2 separate regions of the Homo sapiens genome follow, and region 2 is linked to region 1. Evidence: fine-mapped expression QTL. Tissue or cell type: whole blood. Region 1 holds a variant in brackets; the other region holds the start of a gene. All regions are shown on one strand. Distances are between the middles of the regions.

Region 1 (2,804 bases):
TTGTGGCTCCCAGAATTACCATGTGTTGTGGGAATGGAAGGGAACCAGGGGGAAGTAATTGAATCATGGGGCCGGTCTTTCCCATGCTATTCTCGTGGTAGTGAATAAGTCTCACGAGATCTGATGGGTTTATCAGGGGTTTCTGCTTTTGTTTCTTTCTCATTTTTCTCTTGCCGTCACCACGTAAGAAGTGCCTTTTGCCTCCCGCCATGATTCTGAGGCCTCCCCAGCCATGTGAAACTGTAAGTCCAATGAAGCCTCTTTTTCTTCCCAGTCTTGGGTATATCTTAATCAGCAGCGTGAAAACGGACTAATACAGACCCTATCTCAAAAACAAACAAAAAGAGATTGCACATTGGCACTTGGTCCCTGAATGTGCTAATGATATGTGGCATTCATGGGCCATCTGCTGTGTGTGTGGGGTTTTACATACATCCTTCCTTGTATATCCTTAAGGCATTCACCTCTTCAGCCTCCAGGATGGGAAGGTTTTTGCAGGAATGTATCTTTTCCTCTCTTGAGGTCCTCACTTGCTCCTCACCATAGGAGGAAGGACGGATTTATCTGATTGGAGAGACTGTAAATAAAGACTGACTGGAACATATGGACCAGGGGCGGGTCTGCTGCATGGACTTTGGGCTGTGTGGGTTGCTCACTCTCCTGCCCTCTTCTTGCCTATGCAGAACTGATTTCTCACCTCTACCTTCCTGTCTGTTCCTGGTGGGTTAGGAACGTAGAGGAGAGAAGGGATGAAGATTAGTTTCTCTTACCCCCTGAAGCATTATTTTTCACAGTGCCTCTCCACCTGTTCAGTGTTGAGTAAGTGCTGAATGAGTGGACAGGGAAACAGCCTTGGAGAAGCTTACTATCCCGCACATCCCTACTAAGTGATGCAAATGAGTCAGGGAGCCGGGGTCCACACCCAAGCGCCACCCTTGGTGGTTTGTATGATTCTCTGGTTAGGGAGGCATGACGGTAACATCTCCTCCTGTTTATTCCTGCCATCTGCTGCTTTGTCCGCCTCTCATCTCCTTGGTGGCTTCCTCCATGCAGCAGGTTGGTGGACACAGGTGCACTTTGTTCACTACCTGGCCCTGCCACACCGTAGTTATGGGACCACGAGCAATGGGCCAGCCTTTGGCCTCTTTTCTCACATTTATTGCTTGCCCTTCTCAGTCCCAGTCTGCATGTCAGGCACCACATTTTCCAGGCTCCCCTGTCCCTGGCTTCCTGTAGGGTCAGGCAGTTGGGGGCCTGGTAGAGAAAGGGAGGATGGGGAGAGGGGAGAAGCACAGTATCCCCATTACCCCTCCTGCCTCAGTGGCATCTCAGGGGCAGTGGTGACGTCTTCAGCTGTGG[T/CT]GCGTCTCCTCTGTTTTCCCCGCTCCCACTGACTGGCTCCTTCCTCGGTGGAAGCAGCTCCCCAGGGCCTGCCCACGGCTCTTCCTTTGATTCTCAGCCCTTGAGTTGCAGTGGCTTCTCACTGTTGCTCATCTCTGGGTCGCTTCATTGTCCCCTGTTTGGATTCTGGATTTTTCCGTCTCTGATATGACCCATCCTCTTTATTAAATTTCCTCTGTTGGAGTGGTTCTGTTTTCTGGCTGGTCCCTGACCGATGTAGTGTCCTATCAGTAAAATGGGAGTGCTACCATCTCCCTTATGGTGTGGCTGTGGGTATTCAGTGAGATGGCAGCTGGTTAGTATTTACCGTTTTTTTCTGTACTTCAGAGGGAAGAGTGGGCCTCTCTGGGAAACAGTGCCTCTGACTTCTGCATTTTTAATTTGCCCCAAAGCCATTAGTTCTTAATTTCAGTTTCTACTTGTTGCAATGATAGGGTGGTAGCAATATCACCACTCACCCTTCTGGAATAGCCTGGGGCCTGGGGAGAGGTGTTCCCGGTGTGGTCACATTCTGTGGCAGATTGTGTCTAGCTGGGGACTTGGGCAATATGCTGCTGTCACCTATGAGTGTTTTTAAGTCACAGCTGCTTAAAATCTCAGGAAATAGAAAGCGTCTAAGTGAAGTGAATGGTGTGGCTGCATGCTGCCTTTCAAAGTGCGACGGACAGCCTCTCCTGGGGGCTTGGCAAAAGAATTGGGAAGGGTCAGTTTCGGAGGCTCTGTCCATGGGAGGAAACTGGTGCTGAGTCCAAGTTTTTTCCCCTTCAGGTCAATTTCTATTGTAATACCATCACTTAGATGTAAAATAAAGGCCACTGGGGGGCATTTTAGAGACAGAGACGGTGGGGAGCAAAGCTCCGTGGGGGATAAAGAAAGCACATTAGACAGAAAATCCTACTGTGCCGGGGGTTTCTGCTGTCCTAGAGCTCTGTGCAGGGGATTATTGGAAGAAACTTAATGTTTTTCTTTTCTCTTCTCTTCTTTTCTCTTCTCCTTCCTTCTTTTCTTTCTTTCCTTCCTTCCTTCTTTCTTTCTTTCTTTCCTTCTTTTTTTTTTTTTTGACAGTCTTGCTCTGTCGCCCAGGCTGGAGTGCTGTGGTGCGATCTTGGCCCAATGCAACCTCCACCTCCCGGGTTCAAGCGATTCTCCTGCCTCAGCCTCCCAAGTAGCTGGGATTACAGGCACCTGCCACCACGCCTGGCTAATTTTTATATTTTTAGTAGAGACGGGGTTTCTCCATGTTGGCCAGGCTGGTCTTGAACTCCTGACCTCAGGTGATCCACCTGCCTTGGCCTCCCAAAGTGCTGGGATTACAGGCGTGAGCCACCATGCCAGGTCTGAAACTTAATGTTTTTCTAGAATGTTCTTAGCATTGAGCGAGCCTCTATATAGTCTGGAGATACTCC
Region 2 (2,804 bases), 34 kb before region 1:
GTGTTCAAATTCCCACTCTTCCAGACAAGTGTCTGTGACTCTCATGCCTCAGCTTTCTAATCTGCATAGGATTATCGTGTGGAGTAAAGTGAAATAGCACAGGCAGATCACTTAGCGCAGTGCCTTGGATATAAGGAGCACTAAATAGATGGTGCTCTCCTCTCCATCCAGCCTCCTAGCAGTTCTATTTCTGATAATGAAGCTTCTGACAACAAAATGTGCTGCTGGCTGCATCCTCTTCTCTAGTGACATATTTCTGCATGCTTTACCTGGCACAAGTTTACTGAACAAACATCTGTGTCTGCTGTGTACAAGGTTATATGTGGATGGGAAGTGACACAAAGATGTATGTAATACAGGGTTCTGCTATCAAGAAGGTTATGAGAGTGTTAGAGCTCTGGTTCTCTATCAGTGATGAATTTGCCCCTAGGAGACAACTGTTAAATCTGGAGATATTTTTGATTCTTATGAGTGAGGGGTAGGGGTTTGCTATTGATTTCTAGTATATGCAGGCCAGGGATGCTGTAAATATCCTACAGTACCCAGGGCAGCACCTGTCACAAATAATTATCTGGCCCAAAATGTCAGTAGTGCTGTAGATGAGAGGCTCTGTGTTAAAGATACAGGCCATGGGCAGAAATAACTAATATACAAGGGAGAAAATGCCAGGATCTGTGTCTGGCGATGGGTGGCATATAGTAAAAGGGCCATTTGGATTAATGGGTATAAATTTACGGTTAGATAGAAGAAATAAGACCTAGTGTGGTTTGTCTCGTCTCGGCGGTGGACTTTCAGCTCCTTGAGCGGAGCGACCTCTTCTGTTTTTTTGGCAGGTGGGAATACTTAAATCTCTATTTTGATGCACAATTAAAAATAAAAAATTGCCAAAACAGTGGTCGAAAATTGTACTATACTATATTTTACATGCTTACACTTCACAAATTAATGCTCGTAAAACACCCGCTCTCCACCCTCCTCGCCCTTAGCCCGGCTCGCTGCACGCCCCGAGGCCCAGCACTTGCTGGCGGGTGGGAGGAGGGGCTTCGCCGATGTCCCCGTCCCAGGGGCAGGGCCTGGCCGAAGTTACAGTCCCTCCGGGTGGCGGGGCGCCCCGAGCGTGGCAGCGCGCTAGGCGGCAGCAGCGGGCGCGGAGCGGGGCGCGGCCGCCGCGCGTTCCCTCTTGGCGGGGTTGGCCGGCCGGGGCGGGGCGCGGCGCTCCGGCTCGAGGCATTCGGAGCTGCGGGAGCCGGGCTGGCAGGAGCAGGATGGCGGCGGCGGCGGCTGCAGGCGAGGCGCGCCGGGTGCTGGTGTACGGCGGCAGGGGCGCTCTGGGTTCTCGATGCGTGCAGGCTTTTCGGGCCCGCAACTGGGTAATGCTGCGGGCTGGGGCTGCTGGGTCTCCGCGGGGGTGGCCGGGGGCTTTCGTGTGGAACCCGGCGGGGGGCAGTCTAGAGGAAGGTGGGGGCCCCTGTGCACCCCCTGACTCGTGTTGCTTGCACGTGCGCGCACAGGTCTACGCGTCTATTCCTGTTTCCGAGTGCGTGCGCACGCCAGTCCCAGGGCGCTGGGCCTTTGCTGTGCAAGGAGGTGCTCCGTGGGCCTCCGCCAGACCCAAAAAGTCCGGCGTGACTCGGGAGAGAATTCCAAAGGGGAGGAACGGGAGCAGGGGTGAGAGGACGGAGAGAGAGTGTAGAAGGAAGGCTCTAGAATGAGACAGCCCAGTCCCGGTTACTAGTCATGAGACCGCGTATTGATTACCTAACGCCGTAGGACCTCGGTTTCCCCATTTGTACAACGGAGATTCTGACAGTGAGAGTTGGGACGATTAGATGAGATAATTGGTGTCGTTGCACATAAATTACCTGACGCCTGGTAAAAACTGTTTAAATGCTGTCTATTAATGTTACTATTACTACCCACCCCTGTTCTTTTAGCCCCATTGGATCTGACAGTTTGAAGGCTCAGCACGGAAAAACGCTGACGGCTTCTTTGCTCTGCAAAGACTATTTCAACTACTTTGCATAGTCAGGTGTCAATTTCCAGGAGGCGGCAAGTCGGAGCAGAGCTGATACATGGCCAAAGACCCTTGACCTCAGCCGCTCAGCAGGCCTCAGCAATTTCCCGGTGGAGACACTGCCAGCGGCAGCGTTCTGGGAGCTTAGTTAGCAGCAGCAGCACAGCAGCCTGGGCAAGAGTTCCCCTGGGACCAGAAAAAGGCTTTCAGGATTTTCTTTAAAAAAAAACTATCTAATTTTTATAGATGAAGGGGGCAAAAGTACAGTTTAGTTACATGGATATGTTGTGTAGTGGTGAAGTCTGGGCTTTTAGTGTAACCATCACCCAAATAGTGTACATTTACCAAGGTTTTCTTGTTGCTCAGAATCTGGTACAGGAATATGCTTCTGAAGAATTCAGTCACACCACTCCCTTCCTGCCACCCATCTGCTCAGTGCTTGGGGACACTGATGAGGGCGCTTTCCCAGGTCTTCAGAGATGCATGGTGGTGACAGAGGCAGCACTTCTGCCAAGGGCCAGGCACTGTGTTCCCAGTACCAGAGTTCCCATAGACTCTTAATGCCCCCAATATCTTTAAGGCAGTAGATCCTGTTAGCGTCATGTGTTAGAGGGTGAAGGCTGTGCTTTCTCCTGGTGGTGGCACTTTGGTTTACCTTGGTCTTGGCAGAATCTGGAGAGCTGATTTACCTCTGGCTCTTGGTCTTTCCCCTCCGAGCTTCTTCCTGCCATCTTAGGGAGGGCTAGGATGATGGAGACTTTTCATTGTTTCAGTATCCCCCATGGGATAA

Evidence for each region. PIP is the estimated chance that this variant, and not a neighbour inherited with it, causes the effect.
Region 2: it holds the start of QDPR, and the variant in region 1 is fine-mapped to the expression of QDPR in whole blood (TOPMed, PIP 0.97). The same link has a PIP of 0.9 or more in lung.

What each region holds. Positions count from the first base shown.
Region 1 is chr4:17,476,080-17,478,883 of GRCh38, reverse strand. No RefSeq gene overlaps it. Among named protein-coding and RNA genes, the nearest start is that of QDPR, 35 kb to the left of the region's middle. The variant T/CT (reference allele first, on the strand shown) is at 1,360.
Region 2 is chr4:17,510,516-17,513,319 of GRCh38, reverse strand. QDPR (quinoid dihydropteridine reductase) reads left to right here and starts at 1,230. Exons shown (of 7, transcript NM_000320.3): 1 at 1,230-1,370. The coding sequence starts at 1,266. RefSeq lists a silencer at 1,022-1,601.